Regions from separate parts of the Homo sapiens genome. Here region 2 is linked to region 1. Evidence: fine-mapped expression QTL. Tissue or cell type: whole blood. Region 1 holds a variant in brackets; the other region holds the start of a gene. All regions are shown on one strand. Distances are from middle to middle.

Region 1 (8,178 bases):
CAGCAGAATCTTTTGAGCAGCTTTTGGAACCACAGTGTTTGCCAAGATAAGAGTTTGAGAATCCAGCAGCCCTGGGTGCCTGGCTGAATTTGGTTTCCTGCATGTGCTGGGTGTGGGCGGGGCCACGCACAGGCCCTGCATGGGAGGACTCCTCACCCCAGGCCTGTGGTGCTGCAGACAACCGTCTCCTGTCTACACTGCGACCCAGCCACAAGCTGTGGGGTCTCAGTGGCCTGGGGGAAAGCAGCTCCACTCTCCTGCCCTTCCTGGCTGCCCCTTTGGGTTCCAGCCGGGGTCACGTCCAGCCTCCACTGGGAAACCAGTGACTGAGGCCTGGACCCAGAGGTGGACCAGGCATCTCCTGGCCACCTGTGACCTGGGAAGAAGCGAGTCAGTGGCCCGTTCAACCTGCTCTGCAGCTGCTATAAATAGCCTCCCTGTTTCCAAGAGGAGGTAAGGAAGTGTTTATCTTCTAAAAACCAGACGTTTCCTGATGCTCTGAGCGTTACTCAGTGCTACAGAGGAGATGCACACGTCCCCACTATGTTCTGTCTTGAGAAGGGGACAAGAGAAAGAGGAAAAGGAGCCACTGTACTTTATTTTGCACCTACAGCGTGCCTTGGCACTGGGCTAGAGAGGCACCTTCCTGCGTGAATCCTGTGCGGCAGGTCTTATTGCCATAATAAGTCACATCAAAGACACTGCTGGTCATAAAACACTGTTTTACATACCATAGGGAAAAACGCTGCCAATCTTAACTAAGATGCTACAACTGTACAGTTCCTTCCAATCAGAGATGTTCACGTGTGAAAAAAAAACTGTGCTACTTACAATCTATGAAAGCTGGTGTTATCCCACTTGGCAGGTAAGGAAACTGAGGTCCTGTGAGTGAAGTGACCTCATGATCACACAACAGGAGATGGCAGGGCTGGGATTCAAACCCGGGAGTGTCTGCTGCCACATCCCACACTCCCACTGCCTGGCTCCAAGTCCCAGGAAGCTCGAGACTGTGAGTTTTCTCCCTTGAAACTCACCTGGAGAGAGTCCGGGCACCTGTGCCTATGTGGAGGGTTCCAGCCCCAGCCAGGCCCCTCCGCTGCCCACACCCTGGGAGGAGAAGCGGCCTCCCTTCCAGGCTCATCTGCTCACTGCCCGCATTCTCCTGGCAGAGCTGAGGTCTGAGAGATCTGGACTCCAACCCAAGGGCCCTCTCTTGTTATTCAGGGGTGTCCACAGTTAGGAAGGGACCTGGGGCCTTGTCCCACCACCTTCCTAGGCCCCGTGATCACCACCCCCTCAAGCGGGGCCCCAGCCCCCTGAGCACCCCCTCACGTGACCCAGCCCTCGGCTGTTCCAGGCTCACTGCCCATGGTGTGCTCTTCTGGGCCACAGCAGCCAGGGCTCCAGGGCGAGGACAGGGGACACCTGAAAACACCCCGTTGTTCATGGTCTTGTGCCCATTCATTCGGAGACTCCTGAAAAACTGGGCTGTTTGCAAAGCAAATCCAGCTCCTTGTCCTAGCAGGTTCTCAGAACGGGGAGTCCCCTGGGATGGAGCTGCTCCCCTCACGGCAGCACCACGTTTCCAGTCCCTCGATGCCACTAATCAGCATGGACTGTGTTCAGGACACAGGGTGAACTTTTCTCTGACCCCCGGTGCTGGTCCTGTGCCAGCACGTAGTAGTTACTCAGTAGAGGTTTGCTGAGTAAACCAGAAATCAGATTATGAGTGTTCAGGGGTTTGATAAAACAGCACCACATAACGCACACAAAGATACTCCAGAAACATTTGCTGAGTACCTAGTACGTGTGAGGTGCTGTGAGGATAGAGCAGAGAGGACTGTGCCCCAGCTGTGATGCTGGCAGAGGTGACACTAAGAGGGAAATGAGATATTTGGGGCAGAATCCACTGGGCTCTCTTGGCCATCCGCTGCCTTGGGTCTGTTGAGGTGGGTGCCCAAAGGCTGCCTTCTTGACCAGAACCTGCTGTGCGCTTCACAGAACCTCCTCTTCATTGGAAATGCTGGGCACATTGCAGTCAGTGAGCTGCTGCCAAAACGGCGTTAAGTAGAACCCCCAGAGGCCCCGCCGGTTGGTGATCACCCTCAGGTCCTGCCAGGGAGACACAGTGAGGAGGTTGGCTAATTGCTGCTTTCAGGCCCTGGAAATCAGTCGCCAAGGCCCAGGAGAACCCCGGTGAGTCCGTCCAGTTGAGGCAGAGGCAATAACCTCCCATTGCTCGGCCCTGCGCCTGCCCCAGTCCTGGCAGGGGGCACCGGCTCAGGAACATGCGGCCTCCTGGCATTTCTCGGTATTTAACTGTCTCGCTGTCTTATCCGAGTCCCTAATGAAACGACTTGTGTGACAATCTGTCTGTGCCTTACGAAAGTGTCTGTGCACTTTTTATCCTTTTTAAAAGCAACTTTTAAAAGTGGATGGGGAGGGGGGCTAGCATACGTGGTAGGGTTCTAGAAATCTGTGGTCATCGCTGAAATCCTTTTTGCATCATGTTTTTTGATGTTGGAGTGATGAAGTGTACATCCCCCACCCCACACACCACTACCTGTGTACAGACCTTTTAAAACATGTCTTCTTTTTCTGATTCAATACTGTGACCTCTCCGATACAGTCTAATCCTTGGGGATCTGTAATCAAGGTTTTAAAACCTGGGAAGTGGGTTGGGAAGGGTTTGCACTGGTCTTGAGTGTTGTGCTTTTCTGTGTTGTGTGTTTTGATTTTTGTCTTTTTATCTGTTTTATATTGACATAATTTTCCTGTTTAAAAAAATACAACTTTGGCTTGTTAAAAAAAAAAAAGTCTTCAGAACTCAATTTTTAAAATCCCACTTACATACACTGATGGGGAGTGAAGGTGAGGATCCAAATCATTGCCAGTCTTGAGGAAATAAGTTGCAAAATGGCTATAGAACCCCGACAATGTTTGATGCCTTTGCCAAATAACTCACTTCTGTGAAAATCACAAGGAAATCATTCTAATCAAGGATGAGATCTATGTGTAAAGATATTCACTGCAGCATTTTCTAGAGTGGTAAAAAGCTGTGAGCAACCCTCATGTCCAACAACCAGGGTGTATTCACCAAGACTTGGTTACAAGTGACAGAAACCCAACTCGGATAGGTTTTAGGGGGATAAAGAACTAGGGAACTGAAAAGTCCAGTAGCAGAACTCACTCTACGTGCAGGTAGAACCAGGGTCTGAAATGCTGCATCAGGACTAGCCTCTCCCCTCTCGCTCAGCCCTGTGATCTGGCCCCATTCCCAGGCAGGTTCTCAAGATGCCTCCTGCAGGGCCACCAGCATCCTGCCTTTGAGCATTCCCTGCACGGAGCAGCTCAGATCACGTGTCCGCTCCTGAACCAGTCACAGGACAGGGAGATACGGGGCTCTGATTGGTCAGACCCAGGATGGGTGCTCACCTGCACCCAATAGCTGCCCTGTCTGAACTCTGGGCTGAAAGTGGGGAATCGCAATCTCCAGAGAAAATGAGTCCTAAAGAATGCATGCCCAAGGTGGGCAGATCATGAGGTCAAGAGTTCAAGACCATCCTGGCCAACATCATGAAACCGCGTCTACTCAAGATATAAAAAATTAGCTGGGCGTGGTGGCGTGCACCTGTAATCCCAGCTACTCAGGAGGCTAAGGCAGGAGAGTCACTTGAACCTGAGAGGTGGAGGTTGCAGTGAGCCGAGATCGCACCATTGTACTCTAGCCTGGGTGACAGGGCGAGACTCTGTCTAAAAAAAAAAAAAAAAAAAAAAAAGAAGAAGAAGAATGCAGCGTGGGCAAAAACAACAGGCCTCTGTGTAGGGAAC[G/A]GGAAACCATGATACCGATACATATGGGGCTAATGGCATGAGCATGAAGCCAGACTGCCAAGGCCTCACCAAGACATTGGGGAAGATGCTTAACGTCCTTGTGCTTCAGCTTCCTCATCTTCAAAGCAAGAACAATAATAGTTCCTGATTTTAGGATGGGTGTAAATGTTATTGAGATCATACCAGTGATGTGCCAGGCACAGCATCTGGCACCCAGCACCAAGCAACAATTGTTAGTTTGTAACACAGGAACGGGTTTATGTTAAAGTGTGGTTAAAAAAAAAATCAAGATATAAAATTGCACATACACCGTGATCTCACAGATGAAAAAAAAAACAAAAACACCAACAGCCCAAAAACCTACCCATGCATTGGAAAGACCAGAAAGAAAGGAGTGAAATGTCCATGAGGGCTGTGTCTGAGTGATGGCCTTATTGGTGCCTTTTTCTCATACTTGCTCATTATAGAAAATTTCCCAAATTTCCCAAATTTTCTATAATGAGCAAGTATGACTTTTCATTTAAACTTGTTACTTGGAAAAAATGATCTCCCTACTCTGCAAAAGCCAAAGAGAACAGCTGGCCCTTGCTGGAATTTGTCAGGAATTCCCAGGCTGATTGTCTGTGAGTTTAAGATCCAAATTTAGTCCGGTGGAGATAAGGACCTGTACGTTTCTAGCAGAGGCCAGGCCAGGCTGACCAGTTTGGTTGGGCTTCCTCCAGGCTAGGTTTTGGGGCCCAAATTTCTGGGGTGGAACATGGCAGTGGTAGCAGGAGTGGGAGCTGGGAGTAGGGGAATGGGGTGAACAAGGAGAGGGAGCTGCCCAGGCCTGCTCCTTCTGGATGGTTAGAAGAGCCTGGCTTGGTGACACTGAGTTTTAGGAAGCAATGGGATAAGAGAAACCAGCATTTATCAAGCAGCACAAACCATGGTTCTCACACATTCTCACAATGGATCTTCACAATAGTGTTCTCATTTTACAGGCAAGGAGGCCAAAGTCAAAGTAGGATTGGCCCCCAGGTGGGCCTGCTCCAGAGTCAAGGCAAAATCTTTCAGAGACACATTTCGCACCCCTTTACCAAAGTCTTAGTGAGGGGCCGAGTCTGTCCAAAACCCAGGATCCTTTCTCCCCTTCCAGATTTCCTTCCCACAACGCTATGTCCTTCTACTGGACCAGGCAACATTTTCACAGACGCTATCTGATAATCAAAACTTTTTTGAATAAAGAAAAAAAGGTAGGGCCAGGCGTGGTGGCTCAAGCCTGTAATCCCAGCACTTTGGAGGCCAAAGCGGGTGGATCACCTGAGGTCAGGAGTTCGAGACCAGCCTGGACCACATGGTGAAACCTCGTCTCTACTAAAAATACAAAAAATTAGCCAGGTGTGGTGGTGTGCACCTGTAATCCCAGCTACTCAGGAGGCTGAGGCAGGAGAATGGCTTGAACCCAGGAGGCGGAGGTTGCAGTAAGCTGAGATCGTGCCACTGTACTCCAGCCTGGGCAACAAGAGCAAAACTCTATCTCAAAAAAGAAAAGAAAAAAAGGTCATATTAATCTAGGCCCACTGCATTGTAAGAGACTGAAACCCAATTTAAGAAAAAAAAAAAAAAGAGCGGGCAGAATGTACTGACTCACGCCCAGAACAGATCAGTCTAGCTTCAGGAACAGCTAGATCCGGGTATTCACATGATGTTGTCAGGCCTCTGCCTCTGTCTCTCAGTTCTGCCTTCCTCTGAGCTGATGGCACTCTCAGGCAGACTCTCCCTTTGCAGCAACCAGAACAACCTCCAGTGACTCATATCATGCCAGTTTAGTGACCCTTTAAAAAAGTTTCGGGAAAAGTCCCAGTGCTGTCTCTCCTTTGACTCCTTGGATCAAAAGCTCAATCCCTGAACCTGTCACATGCCCACACCTGATACAAAACTAGGTATGGTATGGCCCTTACCCTCAAGAACCAACCAATCTGGAGGGGAAGGCAGACCCCTAAACAGACATGTTTAGACCAGTGCACTTCTGAAGCTGTGGGAACGATCCAATTCAGGCCACGAGGGCTCGGGATCATTTAGCGATGCAGTTAGGCATCCTTCTTTCTCCTGGCCCTGTGTGTTCTTACCAACACCTGAGCCATGTTCCCTGGCACATCCAATTCCTCCTCCCATGCTGCAGTGCACACAGCCCGTGCGCTGGCCCTCACCAGCCCCTGCCACCTGCGGTGCACCTAGCCTGGTGCGGTGGGGGTTCACTATTGTGCATGCAAATCCCTTTTTCTCATTCCCTGAGTTCCTGCAGGACAAGAAATCCTCCAGAAAGATAATAATACCAGATCATTTAATAAGCACTTAGTGTGTGCAAAGGACATCCATGACATCAGTAAATCCTCACAACAGTTCTCTGAAGTGGCTCCATCATTACCTTCATTTTACAGGCAAGAAGCCAAGACTGAGAAGGAATCAGTAACTTTCTCCTACTTTATATGGCCTCTCAAAGACAAAAAGTTTCTTCGCTTTCTGTTTGTAATTATGTCCTTGGACCTAGACCCCCTGGTTCCCAAGTGCAAATGGGCCTAGAACATTTGCAGCTGTGATTTCACAGACTCCCACCAGCCACCCATTGTATTACGGTCCCATTTTACAGGGAGGGGAAGGGGCTGCCCCACATCACACTGCTTAGGAGCTGTGGGGCCAGGATTTGAACCAGGCCTGGCTCTTTCCACCACATCACAGCATGTCTGTGGGTACATTGTCAGGAGGAGGGGGAGGGAAAGGAGGAAGGAGAGTAAGAAGAAAAGGACAAGAAAAAAACAGCCAGATTCAGCACCTCGAAGGGCTTTTTCTAGAAGAACATCAGCTGTGTCCTGACTCACACAATGCCTATCCGTTCAATTCCAGGGACAGGGAATATTTGCTTTTCCCTTCAGGCTCTGATCTCCCAGCTCTTGGAAGCTCCCACACAGGGATGTGGAAAACACGATTATTCCAGGCATCGAGCTATGGGAACAGAACCCCGACCTTGGCTGTTAAATACACCTATGGAGAAGCTTCCAGAAGCCCAGCAGTGGGGTGTGTTGGGGAGGAGATGCATCAAAACGAAATGCCTCAGGCAGCCTGATCCCCTTTCGTCAGCCTCCTCCCCTCTCAGCTTGGGCCTTCCCAGGTCTAAACCCTTCTCCCCAGACAGACAGCCTGACTCTCCTGACTCTCCGACTGGCCAGCGAAGACCTTGGCCATCCTTTCAGGAGCATGTGGGCCTGCTTAGGAGGGCTGGGCCGGCCTAACTGAGTTCACATCCATGCTCTGCCCCAGCCAGCAGAGGACCTGCCCTCCCCACTGGGCTTCCTAAGGGTGCCTCTCACATACCAAACTTTACGTGAATGTGCCCCCTGTAGCTGCACGATGGGGATGCCCCCTTCTGAGCCTCCCCCTCGTGGCCCCTACGTGGGCCCTGTAAGACCACACCCTCCCTCAGCCCTTAGGAGGCTGCATCCTGGCATCTTAGCTCTGAGCTGGGGTTTCCAGTGTGATGGGGTCTAGTGTGGTGGGTGAGTTCCCTCCAGCTGAGGGGACAGGCCTGCCTGTGCTGTGGGATCTTGGGCAAGTTACATACCCTCTCTGAACCTCAGTTTCTGCAGCTTCGAAGGAAGAGGGGTGTCAAATTGTGTCAGAAAGTGGCTGGCATATAGCAGGTGCTAAATGTTTTTTAGGAGTATTCTAGACCCTGCTACACCAGCTACCCCTCGCCCATGCCCTCCCCTGTCCCATCTGGGCCAGGGGCTGCCTCCATCCTCCTACAACCTCCTGGGCCTCCCGTGCCACCTCAGTGAGCCTGCCCTGCGACACTGTCAGCAGCATCTGCAGGTGACGCGGCGCATCCCCGGCTCCCAACACAGGGTCTACCAAACAGGAGAGTCTTAGTGTGTACACCCCTCACCCACACCCAGCGTGGAATTTCTGGCATTAGCACACCTCCCTTCCACAAAGAATGAACCGGAGTGGTGATCTGCTGGTGGGGTCGTGCCAGGCCTCGGGGCTGGCCCAGGCCCCCGCCCCTTGCTTGTCTTGGTTCCCAGTCAAGAGCGCTGGCCCCAGGCCTGGGAGGCTGACCGACCTCAGACTCCAAGGGGAAAGCCACACTTTTGCTCAACTCCCAGGAGCAGCCCCGCATTCCAGGAGGGGCGTGGGAAGCACCAAGCCTTCCCCAACTGAGCTGAGCGGGGAGCTGCCTGCAGCCACGCTGGCCCCCCCAGCCTCAACGCTGGCCCAAGCCCACTTTGGGTTCCCCAGGGACAACCACCCCACCTCAGAGGGATGGAGATGGGGCTCTGAGAGATTGCCACGGCCACCCCAGGAAAG
Region 2 (8,178 bases), 52 kb before region 1:
TCTGAGCTTCAGCTTCCTCTCCTGCAAAATGGGAATTGACTTGTGTTAATGACCATGCCGCCATGCTGGGACAAGGATCACTCAGAGGGTGTAGCGTGGGGCCCACTATGCGGCTGGCACTTTGTAACCAGCAACTGAAAAATGATGCTTTTTCAGGTAAAGATCTGTTGGAAATTGAAGGTTTCGTAGTCAGGGTTTGTAGAAAAGCACAGCCTTCCTGCAGCCATTTTAAAACCGAGCTTTGCAGTGTGACTGCAGATACTCGGCTCTTGAGTTGTGAGGAGGAGGCTGGGCAAACACCCTGAAGGAAGGGGTCATTTCACGCAGGTATCTGCAGTGGGCATACCCCCTAGCCTGGCACAGCAGCTCAGTGTGCACCCTTTTTACAACATGCACCTGATTGCCTGTTATTGCATGGGGCAGGGCCTGCCAGGGCATGCCCCCAGGGAGCAATGCCAGGGAGCCCGGCCAGGGCACTCCCACTACCAACTGCCCCGGGAGGCTCTGCTGACGCTGCATAATCAAGAGAGACAGCCCCACCCAGAGGCCCCTGCAGCCCATGTATGGGTACTGGTGCTAAAGGAGGGTGGCACAGTCTGTGCAATTCTGGATGTGATTGGTAGAGATGTGTATGTGTGTGAAAGTCAAATCCAGGAGCTGCTGTGACTGGAGGCTGCTGCCCGGGCCGGAAGATGTCCCCACCCCATGCTCTGCCCCACAGGCTCTATGGCAGCCGTTAGTGTCTGCGGGTTCTGGTTCTGAGACCCCACCCGTTCCTCTGCAGCCCTGGTGTCCTGCCGCCTTGGCGCCTGGGCAGAGCTGTCCTCTCTAACTTTAAGGGACACTGCTTAGAAGATGAGGCTTGGATATGGGCACACGTAGGTTCACATCCCAACTCCTCTTAGCAGCTGCAGAGACTTAGGCATGTGACTTTACCTGTCTGAGGCTTGGTGTCCTCGTTTGGAAAATGGGGATGCTAGAACCTATCTCCTTGGATGTGGTATGACTATAATATTTGGAGAAGGAAGAGATTCACATTCCATCCCTGTGGTTATAAAGTCTCCTGTGCGGCAGGTGCTGAGTCCAACAGTCCCTTCCCTTCCCTTGTTGCTGTTAGACATAGTGCCTGGATCCCAGGCCCCTAATACATGCAGACAGCATTTCCACAGTGTCCCGGCCAGCCCTGCTTGGGAGCTAGTGGGAAGAGGTGAGATTGGGAGAGGCAACAAAAATGGGAGGCCCACATCCCAGGAGATCAGCTTGGTACACAAGCTGCAAAGACAGGGGAGCACCTCTGCAGTCCTCTCAGGGTCAGTAGAGGCAGGACCAATCAGACTCATAAACCTCAAACCATAAATCACCCCCATGGCTTCATGTGGGTTGTAGGGGCTCAGTGGATGATTGTACTGGAAGGTATACTTTAGAAGACATGTGACTCAGGAAGCCCCTCCTCAACTGCCTGGCAGGAAATATATGGTTTCTATTTGCACACCTCCTGGGACAGGGATCTCCCTCTCTCCCAAAGCCACCCTTCCACCTTCGTGGACTAGCTTTGTCCTCCTTCTCTAGTGTGGTGCCCAGAGCCAAAGCGACTTCTGGAATGGTCTAACCAACATGCACTGGAGCAGCAAGCCCCTCCTTTGTCCTAAAGACTATATTTCTGTTAATGCATCCCTATTTTGCTCATTTGCTTATTTTTCCCTGCACATATTACTATTCATCACACCAGGGTCTAGGGCTACTAATGGCAAAAACTCATTCTCTCACAGCTCTTTCTCTCCTCTCCCTTCTTATTACCTTTCTCCATTCCTTCTTTCTTCCCTCTCTCCTTCTTTTCTGTTTTTCTCTCAGCTCAGGGCAATGCATCTCTGCAGTCAATTTATGCAAATGTGTATTGAGCACCTGTGTCTGCCAGCCCTGTTCTGGGCACTGGGGTTTCCTAGATGATTACAGCCTTCTTCCTGCCTGCAGGAGCATCCTGTCTGGCAGTGGAGAGGACGCAAAGGTAACAGCTACAACACCTGTCTTGAGGGTGTAATTGAGGGGACAGCACAAAGTGCAGAGGGATCTCAGATGGGTGAGCAACTGCTGTATGTGCCCAAATATAAGGTAATCCAAGTAAAGATTACAGGCAATCCCCATTCTCCCTATGAGAAGATGCACTTTCTTATTGAATAATATAAACTTAATGGGGTGAAGATGAAATAGACATCTACTTGAAATATTTCATTTATTACTTTAGTTATATAAACATATTTGCAATTATTCTCATAGAGAATACTAATATGGAAAGATTGCTTTTGGCAGTTTCAAATTTCAGGAAACAATTTGATTCTAATTCTTTTCTGTGTGGCTTTGACACTAGTGTCACCATCGTGTGTGTTGGGGGCAGCTTTTTACTAGAGCAGGTCCTACTCTCAGAGATCCAGAGGCTAACACACAGCCCTTTCGAATCCACATGTCAGGCAACTGCTGGGCACAGTGTCTCCACCGCAGGTCCAATCCGCATCACATTTTGACAGTAGGGATTCATTTGCTGCAGGTGAGTATTTGTGATCTGCACAACATGGCCACTTACTGAGGTACTCTGAAAGTGGCCTTTAAAAGGCCTGTTCACAACCTCTCACCCTTGCCGTCACAAAGTCATATTTGTTTGCATTGCCTTATCTGAGGAAAATTCCCTCAATTCCCTTTATAATATTGCTGACCTCCATATGCAACCCAATGTCACATAGATTAAAGGAGGATCAGCCAGGTGAGGTGGCTTAGGCCTGTAATCCCAGCACTTTGGGAGGCTGAGGTGGGGGAACCGCTTGAGGTCAGAAGTTTGAGACCAGCCTGGCCAACATGATGAAATCCCATCTCTACTAAAAATACAAAAATTAGCGGGGCGTGGTAGTGGGTGCCTGTAATCCCAGCTACTCAAGAGGCTGAGGCAGGAGAATTGCTTGAACTTGGTAGGCAGAGGTTGCAGTGAGCCAAGATTGTGCCATTCCACTCCAGCCTGGGTGACAGAGTGAGACTCTGTCTCAAAAAAAAAAAGAAAAAAAAAAAGGATCACGCTAACGGACCTTTCTCAAACAGAACTTTGGGGTTAAAAATTAAGTCACTGGGCGAGCACCTGTAATATGAGAAATTAGTAACTCAAATGCAAGGCAATCTTATGTTCAGACATATGACGTCAGGGGGGAGTGGGGAATCAAGGTTTCCCGGAAGTGGAAGCTTGGAGCTGGCCTTAAAGACCCTAGAACCCTCTGGGATGGGTCATGTACTGTAAGCAGAAGGCACCGGAGATGCAGAAGGCTGTCTCCTGAATACCCCGCTTTTATTCGCATAGCTTCAGGCTAGCTTTGCCCTGTACCATTGGAAGATCTTGGGCACCTCTCTTCCACTCTCAGAGCCTCAATTTCCCTATCTGTGAAATGGAAGTAATAATACATATTTCATAAAGTCTCAAGGGATACAAGAGCATGAAAAATAGAATTGAAAAAAACAGCTCATTTGGAATCGGGTCTTCTTGGGGAAGTCATTGCACTTCCTGGGCCTCAGCGTTCCAGCCTGTGAAATGGAGCTCGAGAAGGGCACAGCTGCACTTCCCACTGAGTGTGGTCCAGGTGCCTGAATGAGGAATGCCTGTTACTGCCTCTGCCAGGAACACTCTACCTATCTCTTCTCATGGCCGACGCCTTCTAGTCCATCAGATGGAGCTTATGTGCCCCCACCCCAGATTCTCCCTATGCCCCCAAACAATGTCATCTCCTCACTCTACTGGGATCTGTTTTATTTTCTTCCTGGCTTTGATTATTATATAATGTGATCGTAATTGCTTGTTATTTCTATCTTCAGCATGCCATCTCCAGGGCAGTGGGGACCTTGTCTGTATCTACCCGGCCCAGCACAGTGCCTGGTGCATAGACTGTGCTCAATAAATATTTTAGTGAATGAGCGAATAAATTAATGAATGTGGGTTCCCTCTTCCCAATCTTTGGACACTGGGTTTCTTCTATTCCTCGGTACCTGGCCTAGGGGATAGAAAAGACTCCACCCAAACCCGGGAACCCTGGGTGTACTGTCTCCAAGCCCTTTACATGGTCCCAGGGGCCCGTCTGCCTCTGTGTAAGTTCCCCCGGGGCCGAAGCACTCTCCAAAGAGGTCTGCCGGGGCTAGGACTCGGCCGGCTGGGGCCCCGCGCCTGGAAGAGGGCCTGGCACACAGTGGGCCTTCTCAAAGTGTTAGAACAAATGGGTGACAGGCCAGCAGACTGCCGATCCTGGCACCCGAGGGCACCCAGCTGCCCTGCGCGCCTTCCCGGCCCGGGCGCGGGAGCGGCGAGGGCGGGAGGCTTGGCTGTGCTTCTCCCGCCGCCTGGTGCAAACTTTCAAAAGATGCGGCGGCCGCGGCCCCGCCCCTGCACTGTTGGAGGCGGTGGGAGGCGGGGGCGGAGCCGGCGGGCCCGGGCCGGTGGCTCCGCCTCCTCCTCCCGCAGGCGCCGCCGCCGCCTCCCTCCCGGCTCCCGCCCCAGCTGCCGCCCGCCGGCTCGCCCGTGCAGCTGCGATGCCCCGGAGCGTCGACCCCGGTCCTGGTCCCTGGCCCGCCGCGTAATTAGCCTCCGCGCGCCCAGAGCGCGCCGCCGCCAACGCCGCGCCCGACGCAGCGATGGGCAACACGGTGCACCGGACCCTGCCAGGTACGCCGGGGAGCCCTGCCCGGGAGGCGGGCGCCGGGCTTCTCTCCTCCGGGGGACCCGCTGGGTGACTCTGGAGAGCTACCCCACGGCCCTTGGAGCCCTCGGCTCGCAGCGGGCTGGAGTCTCCGGTACCTCCCGGACCTCAGCTCGGCGCGCGCCCCGCGGCTGGGCTTTGCGCCCCGGGAGGGCGGGTACCGCGTCCTGGTTACCTTGGGGACCCCAGTCCTCATTCTCCCGGCTTTGGCCAGATGCGCAAAAAGGGCCGCTGGGGCGATGCCGCGCGCCCCCTCGCCTTTGTTCCAGCCCGAGGGCGCTGATGAGCAAACTCAAGGCGACCTGGGTGGGGGTGACTGGAGCCGGGCTCGCCAGGGCTTCCGACGGTCAGAAGCCACCCGTGGTGCCAAGACTGCAGCTGCCGAGAGTGAGGGGTGCTCTCAGGGGCACCCCAGTTTCCAGCCTCCCAGCGCCCCCGCGGCACATGCTGCCGTGCTTTGGCCACGTTCCCACGCGCACCCCGGTTGCGCCCCCCTCTGGTGTCCGCTCCACTGGGGACTCCTTCGCCCCCTCGGAGTCGCTGCTGCAGATCGCATCGCCCCCTAGTTAAAATCGCCCCAGAATTTCTGGGACCGGAGTGAGGGGATCCGGAGCAGGTTAACGGGGTAGGAGGAGGCCTTACTGGAAAATACATGGTAATTGTGGGAACAGATCAGCGGTCCCGCGCCCGCGCGTGCCCGTGGAGGTTCAGTGCCCAGCACTTTGCATACCCCAGCTCGGTATGCAAAGAAGCTTCGCGATAAAGATGTGTATCCCAGTTTTACAAATAAAAAAATTGAGTGTCAGAAGAGGTGAAATGACTCACCCAAGGTCACACAGCTAGTAGTGGGAGAATCTGGAGTGGGACCTGTGTCTCTCTGCCCTCCCTCCCCTCACACGCCCAAGTATTTAGAAGTATTTTGTCTTAAGGCTGGGCCTTTGTAGCATCCTTTGGGCAAAAGGTGAGAGGAGTGTGTGTGTGTCTAAAGCACAAAGGCTCGGCTCAATGGGGAAGCAAGTCAGCTGTGAGGTTAATTTAGTGTGAGGTTCTGGAAGAGGGACATATCACCCCATCTCTGCTATAACACTCCCATATAGCTCTCCCTTCTAGGCATTACATGCTCTTAAAGAATAATTTCCCCTGGAGCGGGTTGAAGTGGACAGTGCTGAGCCCAGGATTCCCAGGGTCAGCTTATGGAAGAGGAGCCAACTCCTACTTTACAAGCCTCTGAGCAACTGCACTCAAACGTTCAAATTCCCAGAGAGCTGTAATCATCAGCAGAGTCACCAGCTAGTCAGTGGCAGAGGTGGGATTAGAACCCAGGTCTGCTTACTGGAGGGTGGCCTCTACCTCCTGTGGACAGGGCTATTGCCAGGTTGGGGGAGAACCCACCCGCGGGTCAGGAGATATCTGGGGATGTTGGCAAATAGGGCAGCAGATATTCTCGCCACATAGACACTGGGATGAGGCACCTCGGCACAGGCCCCTTTCCTTGGTTTCTTAATTTAAAAATGTTTATACTATTCTAGTAAAAAGCCATTCTGCCACCTGTGGGTCAGCCCTGGGGTGCGTAAAGGGACAGACACACGCCAGGCAGGCTAAATATAGCTAGAGATTTATGTATTCTCCATCCCTCTCAACTCTCTCTCTGTGGACTGGGCCACCCTAGTCTGGGAGCCGGCAGTTAAGGTTGGTTACCCACTGCAGTGTCTAAGTATGGGGAATTCAGACTCTTCTCTGGGGATTGAAGCTTGCACTGAGTTTGAGGAAGGGGTCAGAACCGGAATTCCTGAGTCACATCGGGTGGCAGATGCCAAGAATATGAAGGGCCGTTAATTGTTTTCCGACCTACCAGTATGAGTTTCTTGCACACCCTGTGCTGTTTTTTGTACCTCTGTGCTTGGCATGTGATGGTCCCCATGCATGGATTGTCCTTTCTTGTCTAGTCTGCCTTTCAAAATCCAGTTGTCGTTACCTCCTCCAGGAAGCTTTCCCTGACCACCCACAGTCTCATCCTTTGCTCTGCTATCTGGATGCCTGAAGTCCTTTCCTGCTCATCGTTGCAATGACTGCATTGTCACTGCCTGTCTCTGTGACTCTTTGCGGTTCCCTGAGGACAGAGCCCTTGTCTTGATCATCTTGTATCCCTGGTTGCCCATCCCAGAGACTGGTGCCTGGCAAGGGCTCAAAAACTGGTGGTGGAGCTCGAATGTTGCCTGAATCTTAGGCTGAAGGAACACTTGGCACAGTCTTGCCCTGTAGAATCCTTGTGCTTTCGTTCTCAGGAAAAGGACACATGCGTGGGGTTCTTTCTGCGGGACTTGAAATAGAGAGCTGGCATTTGCTGAGCACCTGGATTCCATGCCAGGCTTCCTGCATATGTGGCTTCATTTACACGCCAAGCATGCTTCTCCTCAAGGCTTCTGCACTTCCTGATCCCTCTCCCCGGCACATTCTTCTGCCCTCCTCCCCATGGCTCCCACCAGGCTTCCTTGGGGTCTCTGCTTGAACGAGGGGCCTGCTGTTGCCCCAACCCCACTCACTCCTTTGACCCAGCTTTAAGTTTCTCCTTAGCACGTGTCACTATGCGACACGCTGTATGTGTAGTTAGCAGTTTCTTGTCTGTCTCCCCCAGGGAGATTTTGTCTGTTTTATTCACTGCTATACGTTTAGCACCTGGAGCAGTGGCTAGTACAGAGTAAATGTTCAGTAAGTACGTGTTGGATGGGATGAATGGATGAATTTAATTCTTCTAACATCCCTGCAATGTAGGCATTATCATCTCCATATTACAGTTGAGAAGCCGAGGCTCAGAGAGGTAAAGTGGCTTGTCCCAGCTCACACAGTTCACCTAGTTGGCAGAACTGGGATTGCAATTTAGGTTAACTTAGCTCCAAAGTCCTGCATTCTTATTCTGACATGCTGTGGCCTCCCAGCCCGTGATTTAGATAACATTTATTGGGTTCCCCACCATGCACGTGGCATGCTACACTATACAATAAGGAAATGCCAAAGAAAGGGAAGGTTGTTTATGATCGATTGCGGAAGCCTCTTGGCAGCTCTTGCAAAGTGCATCAGCATATTCAGAGAAATGCCCTTTAAACAGAACGTGCAGCACAGGACCTCACATCTACTAAGCTCCTACTGTGTGCTCTACACTCTCTTTCCAGTTGCAACTCAACCCTGCAAAGTAAGGTGCCATTCTCCACCATTTTAAAGAGATTAAGACACTTTGCATACAGTTAGGCAGTGGCAAAGCTGGGCTTAAAAGACTGAGACCTGTCTGACTCCTCATACCATGTAGTCCTTCTCTCTCGAGTCCGTTAGCCTTCATCTGGGTATTTGAAGGGAGAAAAAAAGTGTAAGCAGGTGGGGATAGGGGAGGGCAGCGTTCCAGGATGAGAGTGAGGGGAGGTGGAGGGAGGGACTCATCCCCTTCTCCTAACAGCACATTCCA

The links. PIP is the estimated chance that this variant, and not a neighbour inherited with it, causes the effect.
Region 2: it holds the start of NEURL1B, and the variant in region 1 is fine-mapped to the expression of NEURL1B in whole blood (TOPMed, PIP above 0.99).

Annotation. Positions count from the first base shown.
Region 1 is chr5:172,688,725-172,696,902 of GRCh38, forward strand. It overlaps NEURL1B (neuralized E3 ubiquitin protein ligase 1B), which reads left to right. Exons shown (of 5, transcript NM_001142651.3): 5 at 1-2,816. The region is part of intron 2 of LOC107986479 (a long non-coding RNA gene); the gene reads right to left. Among named protein-coding and RNA genes, the nearest start is that of MIR5003, 31 kb to the left of the region's middle. RefSeq lists a silencer at 1,819-1,878. The variant G/A (reference allele first, on the strand shown) is at 3,832.
Region 2 is chr5:172,636,751-172,644,928 of GRCh38, forward strand. NEURL1B (neuralized E3 ubiquitin protein ligase 1B) reads left to right here and starts at 4,513. Exons shown (of 5, transcript NM_001142651.3): 1 at 4,513-4,687. The coding sequence starts at 4,657. It overlaps LOC107986478 (a long non-coding RNA gene), which reads left to right. Exons shown (of 3, transcript XR_001742996.2): 3 at 1-1,728. RefSeq lists a silencer at 4,275-4,564.